7 linked regions of the Homo sapiens genome follow. The protein of the gene in region 4 purifies or fractionates together with the protein of the main gene of each other region. This does not show direct contact. Each region holds a gene or a part of one and is shown on either strand. Other genes may lie near its edges.

Region 1 (4,186 bases), on a different chromosome or scaffold from region 4:
CCAGTGCGTGGGGGCAGAGCGGAGGATGGGAAGCTCGCCTTGACGGCAATCACACTCTCACTGACTGTCCGGCGGGGCTCCCGGGGGCTGTCGCCCACACTGCCCACTGACTTCACCATCCTGGGCTTACCAGGCTCCTTCTGGCAGACCAGAAGAGGATCTTCCACACTGCAGGTCCCCCTGGCTCTTGTTGGCCTCGAGGGCTGCAGCTGTCCCCGAGGGGGCTCACCTTCACCTTCCCGGGGCCTTTGGTCACTCCAGGGGGTTTCCTCAAATTCTTCCAAAGAGCCCCGCTGGGCCCCTGAGGCACTGGCAGAGCCAGACTTTGATGGCGGTTTAACTTTGATGACCACGTTCTGACCCTGACTGAGCTGGACCTGTCTCTCAAGGACATGCTGCTGCGGGACAGGAGGCTGGCCCCCCCGGGCCCCGTGCAACGGCCGCACAGCATGGTCGGCAGGAGGGTCTGAGGGTCCCGGGGGCCGATTCACGAGGGAGTATTTCTTGCGCCACGAAGGCCCATGGTGGGAAGAGTAGCCCCTCCGGCTTGGACGAGGGTAGCGGGCACTAAAGGCTCTGCCACTGTGGTAAGTGGGTGGCTGCCACCCAGAAGCTGCTGGGGTACCAGGGGCCGGGGCATTGCCGTGGAGGGTTTTGTAGTCATCAATCAGACCTGAGAAGACAGAACCACAGGCCCAGTTAGCCAGAGGGTAACCGCGATAATCATGACTACCCTGGAAGGGCATCAGCTGGCAAGATACCCCCAGATCCCATCTCACTTCTGAGCCCCTGCCAGTTTCAGGAGGGGCAGCCCCCAGAGCCTGGGACTCACTGACAACTCAGCCCGCGTCACCTGGGCCTGTCGCTTCTATGAGCCTTTTCTCCATCAGCTCCACTTCAGTCCTACTTCTGCCTGCTTCACACAGAAATGAACCGTGTGGTGTAACAAGCCTTATTTGCTGGTCTACTGAGTCCACAGTCATTTGCTGAGACGTGTCACTCAGTCTGAAGAGAATCGCAATGATCCCCTCTGCACTGTTTGAATCAGAGGGGACAAGTGGCCGCACAGGCCCTCTGGCTTGCCTACAGATGGAAAGGAGTCACTCCACTGAGTGTAACAGAACTGACACTCTCGAGGACCCCATGCCTGACAACAGGAAAAAAGAATACTAGGAGCAGAGGCCATTGCTCTGCCAGATTCATAGTCTTCCCTGCAGAAGAGGAAACATCAATGGGCTAGAGTCCTACTGCAGTGAACTGACACAACCACAGGACTTTCCAAATAAGTCCCTGGATAGCTACCCCGGTGCAGGAGGGCCAGGAACACAGGCAAGGGCGGCAGCAGCCAGCCTCCCAGTTATCAGCATTCCCCCACCACAGGCCCTGCCCCCGGGGGCACAGAAAGCCACGTCCAGACGTGTTGACGCCCCAGAGCAGGTGTGATGGGAGCTCAAGAAGTGTCCCCAAGTGGGAGGCAGCCCACCTGGCCTCTTATCCATACACACTTTCCCAATCCTTAAGTCTTCCCTTTGTGAGAGTAAAAGCAAAAAGGATTTTTAATTTTTAAAGCTTTTTTTTGTTTGGTTGGTTTTGGCTTTTTATTTGAGATGTGGTTTTTCTCTGTTGCCCAGGCTGGAGTGCAGTGGCCCAATCACGGCTCACTGCAGCCGGGACCTCCAGGGCACAAGCAAACCTTCCACCTCTGAGTAGCTGGGACTACAGGCGCAAGCCACCACGCCCATCTCACTTTTTAAAATTTTTCTGTAGAGACGGGCTCTCGTCATGTTGCCCAGGATGGTCTCAAACTCCCGGGCTCAAGCCATCCTCCTGCCATAGCCTCCCAAAGTGCTGGGATTACAGGTGTGGGCCACTGCGTCCGAACATGGATTTTCTTTTTAAGTTTAGAAAGACCAATTTGGGTTTTTTAATGTTTAAGTGTGGAAGCTGAAGCCTGTTCAGTCTGCGCCTGGAATGGCAAGGGGAGTGTGACTGTTCGGAGAAAAGGGGCATCAAAACCGGGCGTCGAGGCTGGGAGCGGTGGCTCATGCCTGTAATCCCAGCACTTTGGGAGGCCGAGGCGGGTGAATCACCTGAGGTCGGGAGTTAGAGACCATCCTGGCCAACATGGTGAAACCCCGTCTCTACTCAAAATACAAAAATTAGCCAGGCGTTCTGGCGCCTACCTGTAATCCCACGTACTCCGGAGGCTGAGGCAGGAGAATCACTCGAACCCAGGATGAGGAGATTGCAGTGAGCCGTGATCGCGTCACCGCACCCCAGCCTGGGTGACAGAGCAAGACTCTGTCTCAAAAAAAACCGGGCGTCAAGGAAGGAACCCGCGTGCGCCCTTAGCCTGCTCTGCCGAAATGAGCCATGAACTAGTCCCAGCCCCGCAGTGGGGCGCGGGGAGAGAGTGGGCGCCGGGGGACGCGACAGCCCGCGGTGGTGGGGAGGGCCGCCGCCCCCCGCGGGTTACTAAGCGACGGCCCTGCCTCCACCCTCTGCAGCCCCAGCAGGGCCGGCACCACTCCCTCGACAAAGCTGGAGCCGGGGACTGACCCGGGCCCTGAGCCGGCCCACAAGTCCTGGCGGACCCTACCGTCCCCCACCCCAGCCGCCACCCAGAACACGCGGGCGGTGAGCGACCCCTTCGACAAGGGGGCAGGGGACCCGCCGCGAGGTGAGGGGGAAAGAAGGGGACTCGCGTCCCGGCCCCGGCCGGACCTACCCTGCAGTAGGCGGATCTGCCGCCGTAATATCTCCTTTTCCTCCATCTCCCGAGTCCGCGACGGCCGGCCAGGCCCCCACGACGTCATCGCTACGCGACCTTTTTCCCGCGGGCGGGGCGGAGCGGGCCAGGGCGGAGCTGCCAGGAGCAGGCCCGGATGTCTGCCGACCGCCGAGGACCCGCCGTCGCGCTGACAACGGCAGCGGAGAGGCAGAGCCGCGCACGCGCAGAACGAGGCGGGGACGTCACTAGTGAGCGCCGGGAAGTGGCCTGGTAACGGCTGGGAAGGGACTGCTTGGGCTCTGGGAGGCCGCGCGGGCCCAGCTTGTGCAGTCCGGGATCGCGTCCCCTTGGGAGACTTGGCGAGGGGCGAGACCTGGGGCCCACCCAGCCCATACCGCAGTTCCTTCCCACAGTCCCTGCGTTTCATTTCGCCCCAGTTGAGTGTTGGGGGGGGGGGGGTCTACGCGGGGACCCATGGGAGAAGGGCCAGTTAACAATTACTCTTGACCCAGGAGGGTCTGTGAAACCTCTTACTGTGGCCAGAGGAGAAGACATCGGAGAGCAAGGTTCCCTGGATAGACATGTTGAACCTCTGAAAACATGAAAGTTTTTAGTTCGTCATTGGAAACATGTACAAGTGTAAACCTCTGTGCGCTGTTGGTGGGAATGTAAATGGCGCAGCACCGCAGAAAACTATGGAGATTCCACAAAAGGTTAAAAGTAGAACTACCGGATATGAGGGCGATCTGGCTGCGACACCTGTCATCCCATTGATCGCCAGGGTTGATTCGGCTGATCTGGCTGGCTAGGCGGGTGTCCCCTTCCTTCCTCACTGCTTCATGTGCGTCCCTCCCGAAGCTGCAGCTCAGTCGAAGAGAACGACCATACCCAATAGAAGAGCTGGGCTTCCCTGGTAGAACCTCCAAACAAGCTCTCAAGGTCCATTTGTAGGAGAAGGTAGGGTAGTCAAGATTCCAGACACATCCAAATGAGGCGCTGCATGTGGCAATCTGCCTTTCTAGGAGAAAACAAAAATGGAACTACGGTATGATCCAGCAACCCTACTTCTGGCTATATTCCCAAAAGAATGGAAACCAGAGACTCAAACATATTTGTGCCCCCATGTTCACTGCAGCATTTTTCCCAATAGCCAAAAGACGGAAACAACCCAAGTGTCCACGGGTGGATGGAAGGATAAACAAAATGTGATCCATACAAACAATGAAATATTTTTCAGCCTTAAAATGGAAGGAAATTCGGCCGGGCGCAGTGGCTCACGCCTGTAATCCTAGCACTTTGGGAGGCTGAGGCGGGCGGATCACGAGGTCAGGAGTTTTGAGACAAGCGTGGTCAACATGGTGAAACCCCGTCTCTGCTAAAAATATAAAAAATTAGCCAGGCGTGGTGGCGCACACCTGTGGTCCCAGCTACTCAGGAGGCTGAGGCAGAAGAATC
Region 2 (3,500 bases), on a different chromosome or scaffold from region 4:
ACCATGTTGCCCAGGCTGGTCTTGAACTCCTGGACTCGAGCAATCCACTTGCCTCAGCCTCCCAAAGTGCTGGCATTACAAGCATGGGCCACCATACCCAGCCTCAAAATGTTAATAACGACCAAATTCTATTTCAGTTTTCAATCTCTACTGCCTCCCCGCAGACTCATACATTTATTATTACCCTCATTTAAAAAATTCATTCTTCCAACTTTCTCTACCACTCTACTTTCTTTTTTGAAATGGAGTTTCGCTCGTTGCCCAGGCTGGAGTGCAATGGCGCAATCTTGACACACCGCAACCTCTGCCTCCCAGGTTCAAGTGATTCTCCTGCCTCAGCCCCCTGAGTAGCTGGGATTACAGGCATGTGCCACCATGTCCAGCTAATTTTGTATTTTTAGTAGAGACAGGGTTTCTTCATGGTGGTCAGGCTAGTCTCAAACTCCTGACCTCAGGTGATCCGCCCGCCTCAGCCTCCCAAAGTGCTGGGATGACAGGCATGAGCGACTACCCCCGGCCTACCACTCTACTTTCAAGCGTCTCCTCTGACTCTTCTTTCATCTCCATAGACTCAAGTCTAGCCAACTTAGTGAGGTTCTATCCTCAGTGTCTCCTTTCTTTTTGCCCTATACTACCTTCTCAAGTAAGCCCACCCATTCTTATGGTTTCAAATAGCACCTCTATGCTGATAATGACTAAGTATTTGTCCTCTACTCTGACTCATCTTCTGAATTCCAAAACCAAATTTTAAACTACCAACTTTAACATCACTACAGGAATACTCAGTCAACACTTCAAGCTTAACATGTCTAAATGGCACAAATTATCTACATCTGTCCCTGTTTCCCCATTCTGTGTTCTTTAAATCTTGGTTTCTTCATATTTAAAAAAGAGATTTTAATATTTCTGTCCTTTAAAGTCCCATGACTTTATATGCACAAAGTTCTTAGCATAGTATAAGTACAAAGCACAGAGTAAGTTATTCAATTAGTGACAGCTGATATTATATTTTAACAATAGAAATAGTCTTCAAATCTACTATTTGCCCTCAACTTTAGAGGGCACCTTTTCACATCACAATCAGAACTGTTTGTGTTACTTCCTTGCATAAAAAGCATTAATGACTCCCCTTTGGTCTAAAAGGAAAGTTTAACAAATTAAACAATGGCTTTAACACTCTGAAATATAACCCCAACCCACCTGTCATGGGCTGAATTGTGTCCCCCAAAAAGATGAAGTTTTAACCCCTAGCTTCTGTGAATGTGACCTTATCTGGAAATAAGGTCTTTGCAGATGATCAAGTTAAGACAAGATAATTAAGATGAGCCCTCACCCAATCTGACTATGTCCTTACAAAAGGGAAATTTGGACTCTGAGACACACAAATGGGAAGGAAAACCATGGAAAGACACAGGGAGAACACCATCTACAAGCCAAGGAGTGCCTGAGGCTACCAGAAGCTAGGAGAGAGGCATTAAAGAGATTCTCCCTCCTAGCCCTCAAAAAAAAACAAACAACAATAAAAAAAAAATCTATCAACACCTTGATTCCTAAATTCTGACCTCCAGAACTGTAACACAATAAATTTCTGTTGTTTAAGCAACCTAGTTTACAGTACTTTGTTACAGCAACCCCAAGAAACTAATATACCACCTTTATATCTTATTTCCCTACATTACTTAACATAAATTGATTAGTGGCATTGCTTCTAATTCCTAAATGTGAACATTTCCAAGACTTTTGCTCATGTTATTTTGTAGCCTTCACATCTGTCCAAATCCTTTTCATCTACTGAAGGCTTTTCATCAAGTTCCAGGGAATCTTCTATAATCCTCCAATCTGAATTAATTTTTCTATCCTACGTATTTATAGAACAAGTTGTTTGCCTAATATTACCACTGTTCATTGTCCCATATTATAATTATGTGTTTACATATACAACTCCTTGACTGGTTAGTAGGATATTTGAGAGCAAGAGTTATATCGTAGTCAATTTTTATATCCTCCTTAATAACACATGCTTCATATAAACTAAAGTGGCATTTAAGTACAGATATTTGTAGCTTGGCTCAAAGAATAATAAAGTCAACAAATTTTAATATTAACAGGTATTTATAAGTTCAACATTTGCTCATCTATGGAGGCAAGTAACTTCATGAGCCTTTTTTCTGCCATATGATACAGACCAGAGGACACTGCATGCAGCTATTCAGATAATTATTGCCTTGTACTGTGTAGAAGAGTAGCTATTTTTATGGGAGAAAGGGGATGGAAGAGAAGAAACCAGGAGTCTTTGCTTAAAAATAAAATAGCAAAAAATAACACATGTACAAGGTTATTTTACTTAGCATTACTTTGCTCAAGTCACCATGGGTCTTGGCACAAGCTGTCTAATTCCCTACAAGCTAGGGTGCAAATAAAAAAATACAGGATACCCAGTTAAATTTGAATTTCAGAGAAACACTGAATAATAACTGTAAGAATGTCCCATGCAATATTTGGGACATACTTAAAGTAAAAAGTCATTTGTTGTTTATCTGAAATTCAAATTTAACTAGACATCCTGTATTTTATCTGGCAACCCTACTGTAAGTATTAACAGTGATCTCAAAAACTTCCATTTAAGGAGAGAGATTCTTAGTTTAAAGAGGCAAGACAAGTGCAATGCTGCAGTGTTTACCTAGAAAGTGCTTTTATATGCACTCAGTCATTGCTCTCCAGGTATCAGAAGTTTCCAAAGACAAGTACAATGAAATGGCTGAAAGCAGTGGTATTGTAATCCTTTTCTCAATGTACTTTAGGAATATATAGAAAGATAATAAAATTCAGGAGTATGTGAAAAGTACATAAATTTGTTCCACATTTTCTCTTTCGAGGTAGAGTAAGGTTACCTTAAAAAATCTTATCAAAACTGAAAAATGCCGTTTGGCAGGCTTTAGGGAGGACTCATCTCCCCTACCTCTCATGGTTTAACCCCAGAAACCACTCCAAATAAATACGTCACTAGAATAAATAATGGTGCACTTGCTATGCAAACCCAGTTTTAAGACAAGTCCCCTAAGCTAGATGTTCATAATGCCAAAAAAAAAAAAAAGAGATAGAAAACATACACCCATACTAACAAACATCCATACAATGAGAGACTATTCAATATCAATTAAGCAATTAAGGCAGTTAGAGCTATATACTGGCATGGAAAAATATCCATGATACAAACAAGAGGGGGTGGAAGGAGGAGGAAAATGAGCCATAGAATAGTACTGTTGTCTGATTCCATTTATATATTTATTTAGCATATACATTTAAAAGTCTGGAAAAAATACACCTCAAATTATTAACCTGGTGAAAGAGAGGTGAGCAGACAAAAGATGGATTTTCATTTTCTCAGTATGTCTGAGTTTATTGTTTTTTACAATGATCCTGGTAATTAAGAAATATCAAAATACTTTTTTCATTTAAAAATAACAATTGGTACAAAAACCAAAAAAATAAAATAAATA
Region 3 (3,500 bases), about 110 Mb from region 4:
ATCCACATACATCCCAAAGTGCTACTATTCCATAAGAAATATGAAAAGTTTCAGAGCCATTCCGTACAGGATCAAGTGCAGCTGGCTGACACTGATAGAGTCTATAGTTTGTGCTGAAATGCTGGCCCAAACATTTCATCTACCAACTCATATAATTTTCTTTCTTTTTTTCTTTTTTTACAAAGTCATTTATCTCTACCCTTGAATCAGCAGCTATTTTGATGACAACTATCAGATTGGTGGTCTTCATCCAACTTATCCGAAAGAAATAAGGAAGGCAAGTAGTTAGGGCACCTTGCAACTCTTCATTCGTTTTCTCTCGCCTGGGGGCAGGAGCAGGGAGGACCCTATTTTCAGTTGACTGTGATGCGGGAACTTCTTCTTCATCTGTTAAGTCCTCCATATCTCCAAAGAGAGTGGCCAGATTTTCCTTTTCGTCTCTTGTCTCTCCTGTTTCTCCATCATCAGCCTCTTCTGTATAAGATTCACCGTCGCCGTCGGCATCAAAGAGCTCATCAAATGCGTCGGGCTCGCCATTTTCCCGCGTCAAGAAGTTATTTTCTTCTGAATTACAATCCAAGGCTGACTCATTTTCTTCCAGCAGTGCGGTCAGCAGAGACAGATTGTCTTCCTCCTCTAGGGGAAAAGAAGAGAAAGGACAGAGAATAAGCACGGCTAATTCCAAACATTCAACTTTAGGCAATTTAAATGACCCCATGGGGGTAAGAGAAACTACCTAATGGGTACAATGCTCATTACCTGGGTGATGGGTTCAACCATACTCCAAACCTCAGCATCACACTATATATACATCTCTGTAACAAGCCTGAATCTAAAATGAAAGCTGAAACTAAAAAAACAAACAAACAAACAAACAAAAAAAACAAAAACCTACAGATGCACCATTTTGCCTGGTCTTTGTTCTCCTTGTCTCCATCTTTCTTGTCCCCAGGTGCTTCTTAGGGGACACTGGGCTAAGAAGGAGCCAATACTGCTTAGTGAGTAGAGTGGGCCAGCCACGGGGCCAAATGTCCTCAAGCATTCTACTCCAATCAATGAGACAGCTTCCCGCACACCGACTTCCATGAAATTCAACCAACAAGGGAATAATTTTAAAACACCAAACATAGATTTAGGCTTTAGATGTATATAATTCCTGACCTTCAAATTATTTGAGATTTAAAAAAAAAAAGATACAAACTATATAAAAAATACTAAGATCCCATCACCCAGAATTAGCCATCATTAACATTTTGTTGTTTGCTTCTTGCCTTTAACATTAAATAACACCTTCCAGATGAAGTCTGTCATGCCAAATCTTATCCCAACTCCTGACCACTGCCCCCACTTCCCATTGTAATCACTTTCATAATTTTGAGGCATCATTCCAGTCCATTCTTATGCTTTTACATAAATATATAGGCAGTCATAGTCAATCTATATTAGATGGTTTTAAAAATATTTACATAAATATTCCACACTGCATTACTCTGCATTCCAGGTTCATTCAACATTGCTTGTAAGATTAACCCAAATCAAAACATATAGTTCTAGCCAGGCGTGGTGGCTCACGCCTGTAATCCCAGCACTTGGGGAGGCCAAGGCAGGAGGATCACCTGACATCAGGAGCTCAAGACCAGCCTGGCCAAGAAAGTGAAACCCCGTCTCTACTAATAATACAAAAATTAGCTGGGCGTGGTGGCCCGTGCCTGTAATCCCAGCTATTCAGGAGGCTGAGGCAGAAGAATTGATGGAACCTGGGAGGTGGAGGTTGCAGTGAGCCGAGATCGCACCACTGCACTCCAGCCTGGGTGACAGGGCGAGACTCCATCTCAAAAACAAACAAAAAACCCCATATAGTTCTAGTTTCTTTCTTTTCGTTGCTATATTGTATCCTATAATAAGACTGTATCACACCTCATTAATCCATTTTCCAATAAAGGACAATATGGGCTATTTCTAATTTTTCCCCACTACTAAATACGCTGTAATCGTGTATCCGTCTTCTCGCACATGTGTTTCTTGGGAATATCTATCAGAAATGGAATTGCTGGATTGCTGGGTATCCACGTTTTCCAATTTTGCTAGATGCTGCCAAATTGTTCTCAAAGTGGATGCACTCTTGAAATGGCATAGTTCGTCTGGGGTAATACCTGAGGTTCGTTGTCTCATGCAAAGGAAATCAAGGATGCTGACACACAAGGAGTGAGGTTAAGTGCAGAGATTTAATAGGCAAAAGAAAGAGAAGAGCTCTCGGCAGCAGAGAGGTCCCAGAGAAATGGGTTGCCGCGTCCATGGCAAAATGCATGGGGTTTCATAGACGAGCTTGAGGACGCAATGTCTGATTTACACAGGACATAAAAGATTGGCTGGACTAGGTATGCCATTTGCATAGGGTGGAAAACCTGGCTGCCCCACCCTAATCTTTTATTATGCAGGTGGTTCTCTACCTGGCCAGCGCCATATTGTCTGTTTCTTTACTGTACACGTGGTTGACACAGAAAAAGGGCCGCCATGTTGAACACGCCTGGCCCCCAGGGAGCCTTTTCCTATTGGCACAGCTGCAGGTATTCATCCGTGCAAATTACTAGCTTGCTTTTCTATGTCCGCTTGATTTTTCTGGCTGGCCTTGTTAGAAATTACTTGGGGGCTGCTTTTTGCTAAAAGGGAAATTCTGCTGAGGACTCTGTTGCCCTTACTATCTCCCTAAATAATTGCTATCATCTGTATCACTCTCACTAGAGCTGTACACAAGGGCCACTTCTCCCCACCACCTCATCAATATCTGATGTGTCACTTAAATATTTTTTTGTCAATCTGATGGACGATTTAAAAAGGCATCTCACTGTTTTGATTTGCATTTCTTGGATTACTGGTGAGGTTAAGAATTGTTTGTTTATTTGCCAATCGGATTTCTTCTTTCTTGATTTATCTATTTTCTTTGCTCTTTTTTCCCCCCTATTTGGGCACTATTTGTTTATAAAATCAGAGGTATTCAATGGAAAAATATTAAGGATATCTGACCTACTCTCCTTGTCTGAAATTCAGGGGCTAGAGTATGAGAGGGTGAGGGGCTTGTTCAGGATCACATGGAGAAACAGATCAGTTCAGGAGCTGGGTTAATAAGGAATCTCTAGATCAGCAAACCAATATCCTTTCCACCACTCTACACTCCCTTACCAGAAGGAAAAAGCCAGTAGCCAAACTTCAGGCCTAGAATCTGATGATGGGGCCTAATGCTCAGTCAGAGGTTGTATAAGGATTAGCTTGAGTTGCTTAGTCCACAAAGACTCCAAGGCTGCACAGTGCAAGAGAGAAGAGGCCAGGCAGCCCCCTGTGCTCTGAGAATGTCACATGCCTGCAAGGAAGCAAAGAGGCCTCCACCATCTCTTGTTCCCGTCTGCCAAAGAGGGCACACCCCGGGAAGAGGCTCTGGCTCACACCACTGGGGGCCACAGGTGGAAAATGCTGCCTGGGGACCCCATACTATTCACTTTGAA
Region 4 (3,500 bases):
TCTTACTGGTGAACTAAAGACATACACAAAATGGTAAAAAATCAATATATTTAATAATTAAATATAAATACGGATTCAAACTTAGTCACAGAGGATGGGAAGAAATTTCAAAGGCAGAAAAAAAGAGAAAACAAGTTCAGATTAAATAAATAAGAACACAAGCAGAGATTATTGATGAAGAAGACAAGAAACCAAGGAGACCGGAGACCAACATAGGGAGAACTTGTCCCTACAAAAAAAAGTGTTTTTAATTAGCTGAGTGGTGGCACATGCTGATGGTCCCAGCTACTCAGGAGGCTGAGGCAGGAGAATTGCTTGGGTCTGAGTGGTCAAGGCTGCAGTGAGCCGTGATTGCACCACTGGACTCCAACCTGGTTGACAAAAGGAGACTATTTTCTGGATGATGGACATGTTTCTTATCTGTGCTATTCCTACGCAGTTGCTACTAGCCACATATAGCTACTGAGGCACTTGAAATTTGGCTAATACATATGACCTGAGTTTTTAATGTTATTAATTTAAATAGAAATAGCTGCATGCAGCTAGTAACTACCAGCAAAGGCTCTTAAGACATAGTGTTCACATGAATGAGTAGTCTGCAAATAAGTGGTCTAGAACTAGGGGTTGCAAAGTTTTTATGAAGGGCCAGTTAGTAAATATTTTAGGCTTTGCAAGCCATGCTCATCTTTGCTGCAATTACTCAACTGTGTCACGGTAAGAAGCCACAGACAATAGGCAGCCACAGACAGTATGTAAACAAATGGGTGGGGCTATGTTCCAATTAGACTTTATAACAACAGGCGTTGAGCCAGATTTGGCCTACAGGCCTTAGCTTCCCAACCCCTGCTCTAGAAATATCCAAATCACCACCTCTACTACCTATCATCCTATCCACTCCAAGACTAGGGAAAAATAAAAAAGTAAAAGAAAATCCCTGACCGTAGTGTAGAAAGGGAAAGTCTCTTGTGTGTTCTGCAATCACAAGCTGGTCTTCACATAGGTTTATGGCCCAAATTCACAAATAAAATAGCCAAAAAAGTTTTCTAGTAAGAATAAGATGAAGTCTAGCACCTGGGATAAAAAAGGTCTTTTCTTCCAGGAAAAACAATTTTTATGCAAATAAGTACAATTCTCTGGTAAATATACCTTATAAAATCTTCTTTTTCTAAACTCAAACTATTTAATGAATAATTTTCCATCTAAACAAGCTTCCATCTTTAGTAGCCAGTGGTAGACAAAAAATTACTCACTTTCAGCATATATGCTTAACTTTTTGTTGAAGTCTTGTACATATATAGAAAAGCACATAAATCATAAGAGCAGAGCTCAATGAATTGTCACAAAATGAACACATTCATAAAATCAGCACCACAATCAAGAAACAGAAGGATGCCGGCATCCCAGAAACCCCCCTCGTGTACCCTTCCAATGCTAGGACCCTCTGCCCTGACAAGGGTTACAGCCATCCTGACTTCTGACTCTGTAGATTAGTTTTGTCTGTTCTTCAGCTTTATGTAAATGGAATCACACACTATGAACCTTTGTCTGGCTTCTGTCACTCAACATTGTAATTGTAAGATTCATCCATATTGTTGCATGCAACTGAAGTTTGCTCAAATTTACTGCTGGAGTCTGTTGTATGACCATGCCACAACTCATTTATCTCTTATACTGTTTTTAGATCATTTGGGTAATTTCCAGTAATTGGCTGCTGTGAATAAAGTTTCTATGAACATATTACTACACGTTTTTTGATTACGTACATATTTCTGTTGGTTGTATAGAAGTGAAACTGCTGGATCAAAGGCATGCATATATTCAGTTTTAGATAATGTCAAATAGGTTTTCAAAGTGATTATAGCAATTTACACTCCCACTAGCAGTAAACAAAACTGCTGCTGCTCCACATCCTTGACAATACTTGGGCATGTTTTGCCTTTTTCGTTTTAGCCGTTCTGGTGGGTGTCTAGTGGTATCACATTACTTTTAATTTACATTCCTTGGTGACTAATGAAGATGTAAACTTTTTAATATATACTAATTAACCACTTAGATACCCTCTGTTGTATAATGTCTGCTCATACCTTTTGCTTATTTTTCTATTGTGTTGTCTTTTTCTAATATGGAAGAATGCTTTATAATGAGTCCTTTATTAGGATATGTGCATCTTAAGTATCTCCCACTGTGGTTGCCTTTTCGTTTTCTCTTCTTTTCTTTTCTTTTTTTTTTTTTGAAACAGAATCTCACTCTGTCGCCCAGGCTGGGGTGCAGTGCCGTGATCTCGGCTCACTGCAAGCTCCACCTCCCAGGTTCACGCCACCTGCCTCAGCCTCCCGAGTAGCTGGGACTACAGGTGTCCGCCACCACGCCCAGTTAATTTTTTTGTATTTTTAGTAGAGATGTGGTTTCACCGTGTTAGCCAGGATGGTCTCGATCTCCCGACCTTGTGATCTGCCCACCTCGGCCTCCCAAAGGGCTGGGATTACAGACGTGAGCCACTGCGCCCGGCCTTCACTTTCTTAATGGTAATTTTTGATGAACAGAAGTTCTTAATATAGTACAATTTACCCATTTTTATCCTTTACATTTAGAGTTGTTTGTGTCCTAGTTAAGAAATCCTTGCCTACATCTTACTTGAAGATGTTCTCCTATACTTTCTTCTAAATGCTTTTTATTTTACCTTTCATATTTTTATCTGGACTTGAGTTTTGTGTATGGTGTGAGATAAGAGTCAAAGCATACTTTTTTCCAAAGAGATATCCAACTGTCCCAGCAATGTGTACCTAACAGATCGGCCTTTCTCTACTAAGCTCTGATGTCTTCTTTTTAAATCAAATGGTTATATGCACGTATGTGGCTCTGCTTCTGGATTCTCTGTTCTGTTCCACTAGCCTATCTGTCCTTGCTGCCATACCAGATACTCTTAATAATAAGTCTTGCTATCACAGTAATTTAAGTCCCCCTGCTTTGTTTTTCTTCTTCAAGAATAGGCTGTTCTTGGGCCTTTTCAGCCTAAGTTTTTAAATAGTAGAACTGTAGGGTTGAGGAATGAGGGGGTTCTGCAAAAGCAGATTTTCCAATTTACAAAAATATGACCAACTTTTTAAGAATCAAAACTTCTTCTTTGACTTAACTCGAAATCTACTGGAAATAGACCAACATTTGACATACCATTAATATGAATTATTGTACTTTACAACCACTCAGTAACAGGGCTGTTTTTGTTTTCCCTGTTTCCTGGCTTCAGACTGATCTATCTTATTTTCGTACTTCTTGTCTTCTCTCTTCACATCTAGTCTCTTCTTTGTTCCAAACATATTTAGCCAAATAAGGACTTACAGGTAACTGAATTCTCTTTTCTTAATTCAATACTTGTGAATCGTTCCTTTCCTCCCTTTTTAGAAGCTACGGTAGTTCTAGGGGCTTTTAAAAATTATTAGTGGCCGGGCGCAGTGGCTCACGCTTGTAATCCCAGCACTTTGGGAGGCCGAGGTGGGTGG
Region 5 (3,361 bases), on a different chromosome or scaffold from region 4:
CTACTAAAAATACAAAATTAGCCAGGCTTGGTGGCGCATGCCTGTAACCCCAGCTACTCGGGAGACTGAGACATGAGAATTGCTTGAACCAGGAGGCAGAGGGTGCAGTGAGCTGAGATCGCACCACTGCACTCTAGCCTGGGCAACAGAGTGAGACTCCATCTCAAGAAACAAACAAGAAAATATAATTTAGCAGTTTTACCTATATCCACAGTCATTTTCTGCAACTTTTGAGATGATCATTTAGCTTTTCTTATTTGTATGCTGATACAGTGAACTATGTTTTTTTTAAAACATTGGATCAACTTTTATTCCCAGGATAAACCCTACTTGGTCATGATGTATTCTTTTTATAATACTATGACCAGATTTCATATGCCAGTATGATAGATGACAGTTTTATAAAGTCCCAGTGACCTTATAATAAACATAACCCTAAACATACTTGTTTTCTTATTGCTTTTGAATAGAAACTGAGTGTCTTAAATGCTGTCACAAAATTTGCCATTTAGAAGGAAATTTTTAATTAAAAAAAACCTTATAGCTTTCAACTCATAAAATCACATGGATTAAAAAAAAAAGCTCACCTTTGGTATACAGATAATGACAAAATGTGCATTCAAGAAGCCCTAACAAGAAAAGCCTGAAGTAATTTACATGATGAAAATAACTCCAATAGAAAGGGATTTTTAGTTGATTGCCTTCCCTTCTGCTTTGGGTAGCCACACCAGAATTCCTATATAAAATGCTTAAGAGATACAACATGATCAAAGTTATGGCCGGAGGTCCTGCTGTGAAGCTTCATTTACATAACAAGTATTCATTTTCTTAACTATTTGTGTTACAGAACAATAAAAATAGATAACTTTTCTAAAATTATTTTTATTCACATTTTACATAAGATTGAAAAAATGTCAGTTGTTCACTACCAGAAAATGGGGAACTAATCACTCTGTTTGCTTTTGTACCTGTAACATTAAGGTTCTGTTTCCCAGACCCCAGAGATAAGACCTACAGGTTGTGTTTAGTGCTTCAGAAAAAAAGGAAACTAAGAAAGATAGCTATCATAAGAACATTTCACATTAAAAGACAGAGTAGATTGATTTTCTAGGTATTTTTGTTTTTGAGACAAGGTCTCACTCTGATTGCCAGGCTGGAGTGCAGTGGTGTAATTTTGACTCACTACAGCCTCAACCTCTGCAGGCTCAGGCCTTCAAAGTAGCGAGGACTGCAGGTGTGCGCCACCACACGCAGTGAATTTTTTTATATTTTTAGTAGAGACAGGGTTTCACCATGTAGCCTGGGCTGGTCTAGAACTCCTGGACTCAAGTGATTCACCCGCCTTGACCTCCCAAAGTGCTGGAATTACAGGCGTGAGCCACCATGCCCGGCTGAGTTTCTGCTCTTAAAAGAAACAGTGGGGAAAAAAAGAGAAGACATATTCTCATTTCAAAGCAATTTATGTTAGTAATAACTGAGCAAAATGATAGAATTTTTTAGTTGTGTGTTTTCAGAAGTAATGTCAAATTTACTTCAGATAATTTAAAAGGTTTTTTGCATATTAAATGGTTAATAAAGTGGTGTTATTATACTAAAGAAAAAATGCAAAACCTTTTTTACAGAATAGTATAAATGTTTATTTTCTGTATGATTTACTTTGCTGTCCTGTTTTTACAATATAGAAAAGTGTATTCTTTGAATAGCTCTAGTAAATATAAATTTAATCTTTCTACTTTGGGATGTAAATAGAGCTAAAAAATTATATACCCAACCCTCCCCAAATAGTCTTTTAAAATCATTGAATTAATGTGGCTATTCATCTTGTTCAGCAATTTGATGCAAATGCCTGAATACAAAAAGTTATTTAGTAAGTACTACACAGGAAGGAAAAGGCTTAATATTTTAGATAGATAGATTTTTGAAAATCAGAAAAACTAGTAGCATTTGATTGCACCTTGAAATTTTTTTACAAGCAAAACATTCGTAAGCAATGCCATCATACATAATCTACAATTGTAATCAAAATTTCACGAACATTTTCTGCACACTGTATATAAATACACATCACAAAGGTGCAATTAGAATTAACACAGAGTATGTACAAAATGAACAAAGTTTAAGTTTAGACCAAAAACTTATTGCAATCTTTTGAAAAATAACTTGATTATTATTTTACCCTCTTACACTAATTTACATTTATACAAATTTTAATTAAACATACTAGATTGAGGTGCTAAGAATGTTTGAACTATCTACATTTAAAGTTACTGCACTATGATTTTATAAATCCAAATTTAAAAGGAAGATACTTTAGTGAATAACGGAATCCTCTTTTGGATTACTTAATTTCTATTGCCTATATCTTGCATGTTCATATGAACATATATACACACTTAATACATACAACTATAGAGTCCTTGTAGGAAATGAAATAATCATATACTAATTACTGATGATTAAGGTACCTAACAAAATGCCTGAATTCCAACATGGTTTTTTCTTGTCATAAAATCAAGAGTCCTGTCACAACAGGCTCTTAAATTCATAGAGTTTTTGAATACTGAAAATGATTTAGGTTATTTTAGTAATTATAGGAAAACAGACCTTCCAAATCACTGGCTGAAAATAATGCCATATTAAACTTCCCTTATAAAAAGAAATCCCACCACAATTTTGAAAATTTTGTTAGGAGGCCCATTTCTGTAAATCAAGTAAGAGTTGCGATTTGGTTTGAAACCTCTTAGTTCAAAAGTCTATAAAAAGGGCCTGGCACGGCGGCTTATGCCTGTAATCCCAGCACTTTGGGAGGCCGAGGCGGGCGAATCACGAGGTCAGGAGATCGAGACCATCCTGGCTAACACGGTGAAACCCCGTCTCTACTAAAAATACAAAAAATGAGCCGGGCATGGTGGCATGCACCTGTAGTCCCAGCTACACGGGAGGCTGAGGCAGGAGAATCGCTTGAACCTGGGAGGCAGAGGCGTTGCAGTGAGCTGAGATCTCACCATTGCACTCCAGCCTGGGCTACACAGCGAGACTCCGTCTCAAAAAAAAAAAAAAAAAAGTCTGTAAAAATAATTGATTGTATAGATGAAAACTTCTCTAAATTCATCTTTTGCAGCTTCCCTATTCTTTGTTTCTCCACCCATGCCAAATTTTATACTTGATTACTATGTGAGGTTCTATATTATCACTACATAATGTTTACTTCCATTTATATCCACCTATCATTTTAATAGTACCCAGTAATCACTTTGACAATTTATTACTTCAAATACATACCACCTCTTTGAAAGAAAATGGAGACAGCCCAGAGCATCTGTTAGCCTTTCCTTATTATAGAAACACATTGCCCATCCTC
Region 6 (4,126 bases), on a different chromosome or scaffold from region 4:
TGCTTCTTCCCTGATTAACAGGTCTGGAGAAGCTATATGGCTTTTTGAAGATCACAGAGTTGGTGAACAGCTGCAACTGGGTCCAATCTTACATTCTTTGTTTTCTGCTACCCTGCTGTGTGAAGCTGTGAAATGAAGCCATAGTCAGTATCTGCTGCCACTTGAGCACTGTTCTTACTTCCTGCCTGTAGCCTTGGAGTTGCAGATGTAAGTCAAAACCGTGGCAAGTCCCATGGGCTCTTCCTTCTCTTTCAGGCCTTCTCTTCTCAGGCGTGGACTGCCATGAGTTTCACAACCTCAGGCCCTGGTGTAGGCTTCTACATCAGAACCCTGGGCGTCAGCAAGGCGCTGCACAAAGAGGCCTGCAACAGAAGCCAAACACTTGGGTTTAAGTCCTGGACCGGCACAGCCTTGGTTTCTCAGAGTGTTGAAGATAAGGGGAATGAGCCCCAGAAGTGGTTCTCAAGCAGGGGTGTATGGCAAAGTCACCCACGGAACTTAAAAAGGATTCCCAGGACTCACATGCAACCTAGCAGATCAGGTTACCATTTCCTAGGGTGGGGCTCAGGCATATGGTTTAAAATTCTCCCTAGTTGATTTTGATGCCTCCCCACCCTCACCCTATGATGACAATGTTTAGACTGGCTGATCTGTAGCTGCTTTCACTCCAAGGATGAATCCTGGAAATTGCAGTTAGCTGAGTTTGCATAACAAAGAAAATGCAGTAGACAGCAGGCAGTTTGAGAACAATCATGATTGGGGAAACCCTCCCTGGTAAGGATCTTGTTTATCATGATCAATAGCGAAGGGTTTGGCCAAGGAAGGCACTCAATAAGGTTCGTACTGGTTGAAAGAATGAGTGAATGAATGAATGAAAGAGCAGGCTTCACAGAGACAAAAATAAAATGTTCTTTGTTCTTCCTTTTGCACAAAAACTGGCCCCGATGCCCTTACTTAAAGGCAAATAAATCTCTAGAGATCTAAATGGATTTTTTTAATTGCCATTTTGCATTTTTAAGATCTTCAGATCGGGTATAATACATCAGAAAGGAGTCCCAATAAATAAAGGAATGCCATCCTTTGTCTGCTCTTTTCAAATTGCATTTGCAATGAATGTTATCAGCATAGCAAACTGTCTACGCAAAAAAGTGTTATTTTTGAAGGCTAAATTTGATCCAAGATGAAAGTAACTTTTAAAAATTGCATCCTAGTTAAAGATATCAATATCACACAATTTTAAAAAAGAACTATTTGTATTCTACTCAAAGAGACAACAGTATATAACATTGGTTTCTAAAACAATATTTTCTGAACCCTTGGCTGTGTACTGACATCATATGCTGGGCTGAACTTTGCATATGTGACTCAAGAGAGAGAAAAGAGATGTATTCCCATCCTCAGTCTCTGCTCTACTGTAGAAGAGTACTGCAAGCTTCTAGAGACCCAGGTTTGTCTTAATTCTTGGTGATTTCAAGTCTAAACTTAAGATGGTTTAAAGAGTCTAACACAACATTAGAGTTTAGCTACGTAGATTTGTACTTTTAAATAGGACATAATGCTCTGTAGTTTTTTTTTTTAATGTTACGTTGATAAATCGTTCATTATTACAATTTTTAAAGTCAGAGGTATTGTAACGGGATACATTAACTACCCAACTTATAAAGACTTAAGTGTTTTCTCCCGTTCGCTCTTTTGGCTTTTCCTTTCTGGTTAAGAAACTTTCATTCTTTTGAACCCTGCAATTTCTTGGCTTTACAGAGCCCCAAACCCCAAAGACACCAAGATAAGACGGGCAGGCCGGTATGGGGAGGTCCCACAATGACATCAGCATTTGGAACAATTCAAACCTTCACCATCTCTTCTCAACCTCCTATGTCCTCGCCCCCCGTAAAAGATGCGCAGGACCTCGATGGACGAGCCCACCCCTGACCCTCTCAAGGAAAGACAATGCCAGGCTGGTTTTCGAGTTTATTGTCGGCACGCTCCCCCGATGGCAGGCAGCATCCGAGGCGAGCGCGCCTGAGCCTGGGCGCTCGGAGGACGAGGCCAGGTGCATCGGGCGCATCGTCGTCTCCCAGGCGCGTCCCGCTCGCCGCGAGGGAAGGCCGGGGTTCTTCCAACCGAAGAAAACCAAAACCGTCAACGCTCAGCTCCGAGGCCCGCAGGAGGCTTTAAAAATGGCCTCCTGACGACACTTCCTGCTCGGCGCGGACGGTAGGAGCCCTCGGAGGAGGCATCCTTCATAACGCTGGGGGCGGGGAGCGCAGGCCGGGCCAGCGGCGCCACACGAACGGCCCCGCGGGACGCTGCCACCCCCGCCTCGGTCGCCCCGGCGCGTCGGCCGAGTCCGCGGGGTCGCGGCGCACAAAGGCGAGCTGGGGGCGCCGGGCCGGACCCCGACCCTAGGCCAGGCCCGCGTACCTGCTCAACGCGCGCCAAGCCGCGGCCCGGGCCCCCACCCCAGCCGGTGCCCCACGCCCACCAGCCGGAGCCCGCGTTCGGCCTACCCGGTGCCACTTGCCACGACGCCAGCCCTCAGCGCGGGCACGCGGGGCCGCGGCCGCTCGACCCGCCCCGGCCTGGCCCCGTCAGGCCCCCGCCCCGCGCGCCCCCACGACCCGGCCGCAGCTGGCGCTTCGGTCACGTACACGCGGATCCGGGGGCCCTCGCCCTCCCGCTCAGCTACTTACCCGGCAGGCCGGATTCGGGTGCCAGGTCCCGGCGAAGGGGCGTCTACACCGCCGGCCGCAGACCGCCGGCGCCGCGCCCGCTGTAGGTCCCTACCCGGGGGGCGGAGCCCGCGCCAGCCCCGCGCGTGCGCAATGTGAAGCGGCGGCGCGGCTCCAGCGAGGCCGGCGCCTGAGGTCTCTAAGGCTGCGCCCGCCCCCGCCGGGCTTCTAAGCTGTCCAGAGCGGGGAGCCTCAGACCCAGCCGAGCCCCACTTCTGGGCTTAGAGCTTGACCCAACACGTTCGCACCGTAGCGAGCGAGGTCCACATTTAGCCATGCCGCAGGCAAAAGAAGGATTCGGCTTCGGTCCTGGCCCAGTCTGCCATCCCGGGGCGCCTGCCTTGTACCGGGTCCCGCGGAGGGCGGCCTTGGCGCCTGCCTCCCTGGAGCCTGCAGTCCTGCAGTGGGTGAGTGAAAGCGAGAGAAGAGGAGCTCAGGTCCTCAGCCTCCAAACTCGTCTTCTTGGAGAGCTTCAGTGAAGGAGATGGCCTTGAAGTCCTGGGTACAAATCCTGACTCTCCCTACTCCTTTACATCTTAGCTGCTGGACCTTGGCGAGAAAGTCCCCTGACCTCTCTCAGTGTCTTCATTTCTGAAGACGGGGAAGGTCGTATGTGAGGCGCAAAGCCTCCTCTAGCAGTTGGGCGTTGCGAGGGTCAGAGGGGACAATGACTGTGGGAGTCTGGAGAGGGTGTGAGCTCATTTAATGCCAGAGTTTCTTTCCTGCCTCCTGGACTTCGGTGCTATTTTGGGCGAGCCAACTGCCCTCTAGATACACCTGCATCTACGGTCCGGAAGGAAGACATATTTAGAATAGAGCCTCTAAGAGGAAAGAAGAAGACCATATTGCCAGGTCCCGCACAATCAGTGACTCCCCACAAAGTGAAACAGCTCTCCAGCAGGGGCAGGTTGAGGCATGGGAGCAGCGTCACTGGGAAGTACAGTTTCTTCGGGATGAACAGCTAAAGTTTATTTCAAAGCTCTGGAGGCGGGGGCGGGGCAAGGCTGGTTTCCATCACCTTCCTGTTGGCGGCCAAAGGTCGGCGTGCACGGACAGCGGCCAGTATGCTGCACGGAGGAGATGTGGGCCTGGGCAGTACTGCCACACGGAGAAGCGGAGTTGAAGAAGACAGGCTCAGCCACAAGTCCAGCAGCTGGGCAAAACCTCCACCACTAAAGTATCAGGAGCTGGGCAGAGAAAATAGCAGCCCAGAGAGCAAATCCTTCTTCCTGCCCTAGGCTGCAGTGCTCCTAACCTCGGTCCTGATCAGGGAGCTGCTAGGGTCCTGGTTTTCTATCTCCTAGGGCTCAGAAAAGCTAAGGAACCTCTTCTCAGAAAAACACATTTATGTGCAGATAGCACCTATCAGAGAGAATATGCCAGAGAGTTCAAAGTCT
Region 7 (3,500 bases), on a different chromosome or scaffold from region 4:
AACTATGGAAAACAGAGTAGCAAACACAAAGAAACAGAAACTGTAGAACTAGAGATCTATGGAAAGAGAAAGCAAGCATTGTGATACTTAGCTTACAGGAAAGAAAGCAGAAGGTACCCACAGAGAGGCTTAGATATAATACTGGCAGAACAATTTACAGACTAACATTATGAAAAAGAAAATTTTCAAGGGAGGATACAAGATCTCCTCCTCAGGACACATTTTCTAAAAGGACCTCTGAATGCGGAGGGCTAGTCTTTGATACTTAAATTTTACTATAAACAAGGCAGACTTATTTGGATTATAGACTCAGTCTTAAAAATTCTTTTTAGGAGGTGGGCGTCATGGTTCATGCTTGTAATTCCAGCACTTTGGGAGACAGAGGTGGATGGTCGGAAGTTTGAAACCAGCCTGACCAACATGGTGAAACCCCGCCTCTACTAAAAATACAAAAATTAGCCAGGCGTGGTGGCGCACATCTGTAGTCCCAGCTAATCGGGAGGCTGAGGAAGGAAAATCGCTTGAACCTGGGAGGCGGAGGTTGCCGTGAGCCGAGATCGCACCACGGCATGTCAGCCTGTTTGACAGAGTAAGACTCCATCTCAAAAAACAAACAAACAAAACAAAACAAAAAAAACAACAACACACACACACACACTGTATTAAAATACAAAACAAACACCAGCATATAATGGAGACACACACACTGCACAATTCTTTTTGGTATATAATTTATGAAAGTATGTCCTAACTGTGCTACTATCAACCCACACGCCAGTATTTCATCAGTAGAAGAATACTTTTAAATGAGGCAAAAGGTTTTTGTTCATTTCGGTCTCTAAAAGATAAAGACACTTTCCTCTGTCCAGCTCATTAACTTACAAAATATTCAAGTCAATAAAGTGTCACAAGAGTAAAAATTTAAAAATATGTAACATTACACTCATCTACCTTTAGGATAAGAAGACAAAAAATAGACAAAAGTTCTATTTCAATTTTACACTTTAAGCTACTTAAATGAAGCAGGAGAAAAAGAAGAGTGTGTGTGTGTGTGTGTGTGTGTGTGTGTGTGTGTGTGTGTGTGTGTATTTTTTTTTTTTTTTTCCAGACAGGGTCTGGCTCTGTAGCCCAGGCTGGAGTGCAGTGGCACCATCTTGGCTCACTGCAACCTCCAACTCTTGGGCTCAAGTGATTCTCCTGCTTCAGCCTCCAGAGTAGCTGGGATTACAGGCGCCCACCACCACGCCCGGCTAATTTTTGTATTTTTAGTAGAGATGGGGTTTCACCATGTTGCCCAGGCTAGTCTGAAATTCCTGAGCTCAGGCGATCTGCCCACCTCGGCCTCCCACAGTGTTGGGATTACCTCCCAAAGTGTTGGCATGAGCCACCATGCCCGGCCAAGAATATTTTATTGAAAAGGAAACACAAGTAGGGGCCAAAGATTTCAGATGCAGTTTGAAAGCCTCAATTTCTTAAAAAGAAATAAAACCAAAGTTATCATTAGATAGGCTCACTTACCAAATTAACAATTCTTAAATTTCACTGGGAAGTTTAATCGAAATGGAGTATTTCAAGGCTAGTACCTTAACTCTTTGGACTACTGATGGTCAACTACTGACAGTAAAGTATGAGAAAAATTCAGATTTTAAAAATTTAAATAAAAAATTAATGCCTCTGAATCATTCCAATCTAGCTAATCTAAGCCACATCAAAATGCTACTGTATATCCAGAGTAGCTCATGAATCCTCTAAATGTATGTGTGCAGGCTCGCGGCAAGCCTCCCGCAGCACTTACCTGTGATCCACCTCCTCGGTCTGTGATGACTCCTCTGTCTCCCTCTCTGCTCCCGTACCCCGAAGCGCTGCTACGATTCCCAGGGGGAGCGCCTCTCACACTGTGCCCTGATACTTCTCTCCCAGATCGTTCTGGCCTTTCAACTCTGTTAAACAAAACATAAAAACATACATGATCAAAACTGTAATCTTAACTTTTTTTAACCCCAATGCATGAGACCACTAGGAAAGCATTACATAGTACACAGCTACCTTGTTTCCCGTTTGTCAGTGGACATGCTTCCTTCACTTTTCCAGCTGGTGGGTCTGGAAGGATTGGGCCCTGCCTCTCGAGGATGTCTAGGATGAGTGATATCAGGCCTGTCATGAATAATCACCGTTCTCCTTTCGTCTCGCTCCCCTCGTACTTCTCGCCTGTCTGATTCTCTAAGTTCATTTCTTGGTGGTGGAGGCTCATTTCTTCTGGAGTCACTGAAATTTTTGGGATATCTTTCGAAGCTTGGATCTTCCCTTCGTGCAGTAGGTCGTGCTTTTTTCCCCTCACTTTGACCAACAAAGCGATCCCGCCTATTGATTAGAAACAAAGAATATAGGTCCAAGAAGTGCTTACTTGAGTGCTTAATTCTTCTTAACTTTGTCTGCATAACCTACAATAATGAAACCAAAAAATGAACTTAAGGCAAAGCCATGGAAAAAAGCTAGTTATTGATTATTACAACTCATTTTCTTTTAAACTGAACTAAGTGTCTAGCCTAAAGGTTGGTTTTTTAGCATTCAGGAGAAATGATACCGAACACTCAAAAGTCACTACCAAGCTGAAGAATGTTTTACTGTTCTTAACAGTTGAGGCATATCCAAAGCAATCAGTGCTTCCACAGTTTTAAAGATAAGAAGAGGCGGGGAGTGGTGGCTCAGGCCTGTAATCTCAGCACTTTGGAAGGCTGAGGTGGGTGGATCACTTCAGGTCAGAAGTGCTAGACCAGCCTGGCCAACATGGCAAAACCCCGTCTCTACTACAAATACAAAAATTAGCCGGGCATGGTGGTGGTGCATGTCTATAATCTCAGCTACTTGGGTGGCTGAGGCACAAGAATCGTTTGAACCCACGAGGCAGAGGTACAGTATGCCAAGATTGCACCACTGCGTTCTAGCCTGGGAATCAGAATGAGACCCTGTCTCAAAAAAAATTAAAATAGAATAAAGATAAGAAGATAAAGCCAACCTGCTTAATGGTGTTCTAGTTAATTAATTTGGAATACTGAATCACATTCCCATTAACAGAAACAAAAACCACGTAAATTGTTCTGAGCATTCAGTTCTGACCTGGTACTTCCAGTTAAGATTTTAGGAGAAACAGAGTTATCACTAGCAAGGCTCATAAAATAAATATAACAATTTTCAACATATCTACCTTTCAAAAGATGAAGACTGTACTGCTGAACTCTCAGGAAACCTGCCCCTCTCTCGGTGATCAAAGTCATTAAATCTGTTCTGTTGGCGAGAGTAGTCGGATCCATGGCCAAATCGTGCATCTGTATCTAGAGACAACTTTTTATTCTCGCTCCAGTAAGGATCATCTCGCCTTGAAGAGAAATATTTGCTTATTTACATAAATTAGTTCTACAGTAATCAAACGACATTTACTTGGAGTCATACATACCACATGTTAGAACTGTGGACATAACAGGGCTAGTAAACTCAAGACA

What was found.
Region 1: the proteins of IKZF5 (region 4) and ZC3H3 purify together in Homo sapiens (affinity purification with mass spectrometry; 2 studies listed by BioGRID and IntAct, with this or other methods). This does not show direct contact.
Region 2: the proteins of IKZF5 (region 4) and ELF2 purify together in Homo sapiens (affinity purification with mass spectrometry; 2 studies listed by BioGRID and IntAct, with this or other methods). This does not show direct contact.
Region 3: the proteins of IKZF5 (region 4) and MCM10 purify together in Homo sapiens (affinity purification with mass spectrometry; 2 studies listed by BioGRID and IntAct, with this or other methods). This does not show direct contact.
Region 5: the proteins of IKZF5 (region 4) and LIN54 purify together in Homo sapiens (affinity purification with mass spectrometry; 2 studies listed by BioGRID and IntAct, with this or other methods). This does not show direct contact.
Region 6: the proteins of IKZF5 (region 4) and ZNF518B purify together in Homo sapiens (affinity purification with mass spectrometry; 2 studies listed by BioGRID and IntAct, with this or other methods). This does not show direct contact.
Region 7: the proteins of IKZF5 (region 4) and SLTM purify together in Homo sapiens (affinity purification with mass spectrometry; 2 studies listed by BioGRID and IntAct, with this or other methods). This does not show direct contact.

The regions. Positions count from the first base shown.
Region 1 is NC_000008.11:143,538,648-143,542,833, forward strand, and holds the start of ZC3H3 (zinc finger CCCH domain-containing protein 3), read right to left. Parts: upstream 2,801-4,186; 5' UTR 2,775-2,800; coding exon 2,729-2,774; intron 674-2,728; coding exon 1-673. UniProt on the Homo sapiens protein: Required for the export of polyadenylated mRNAs from the nucleus. Enhances ACVR1B-induced SMAD-dependent transcription. Binds to single-stranded DNA but not to double-stranded DNA in vitro. Involved in RNA cleavage.
Region 2 is NC_000004.12:139,128,719-139,132,218, forward strand, and holds part of ELF2 (ETS-related transcription factor Elf-2), read right to left. Parts: intron 1-3,500. UniProt on the Homo sapiens protein: Isoform 1 transcriptionally activates the LYN and BLK promoters and acts synergistically with RUNX1 to transactivate the BLK promoter. Isoform 2 may function in repression of RUNX1-mediated transactivation.
Region 3 is NC_000010.11:13,168,058-13,171,557, reverse strand, and holds part of MCM10 (protein MCM10 homolog), read right to left. Parts: intron 637-3,500; coding exon 295-636; intron 1-294. UniProt on the Homo sapiens protein: Acts as a replication initiation factor that brings together the MCM2-7 helicase and the DNA polymerase alpha/primase complex in order to initiate DNA replication. Additionally, plays a role in preventing DNA damage during replication.
Region 4 is NC_000010.11:122,998,796-123,002,295, forward strand, and holds part of IKZF5 (zinc finger protein Pegasus), read right to left. Parts: intron 1-3,500. UniProt on the Homo sapiens protein: Transcriptional repressor that binds the core 5'GNNTGTNG-3' DNA consensus sequence. Involved in megakaryocyte differentiation.
Region 5 is NC_000004.12:82,924,103-82,927,463, forward strand, and holds the end of LIN54 (protein lin-54 homolog), read right to left. Parts: 3' UTR 501-3,361; downstream 1-500. UniProt on the Homo sapiens protein: Component of the DREAM complex, a multiprotein complex that can both act as a transcription activator or repressor depending on the context. In G0 phase, the complex binds to more than 800 promoters and is required for repression of E2F target genes.
Region 6 is NC_000004.12:10,454,627-10,458,752, forward strand, and holds the start of ZNF518B (zinc finger protein 518B), read right to left. Parts: upstream 2,801-4,126; 5' UTR 2,691-2,800; intron 363-2,690; 5' UTR 179-362; exon of another isoform or gene 1-178. UniProt on the Homo sapiens protein: Through its association with the EHMT1-EHMT2/G9A and PRC2/EED-EZH2 histone methyltransferase complexes may function in gene silencing, regulating repressive post-translational methylation of histone tails at promoters of target genes.
Region 7 is NC_000015.10:58,885,180-58,888,679, forward strand, and holds part of SLTM (SAFB-like transcription modulator), read right to left. Parts: intron 3,377-3,500; coding exon 3,206-3,376; intron 2,442-3,205; coding exon of another isoform or gene 2,423-2,441; exon of another isoform or gene 2,362-2,422; coding exon 2,047-2,361; intron 1,941-2,046; coding exon 1,796-1,940; intron 1-1,795. UniProt on the Homo sapiens protein: When overexpressed, acts as a general inhibitor of transcription that eventually leads to apoptosis.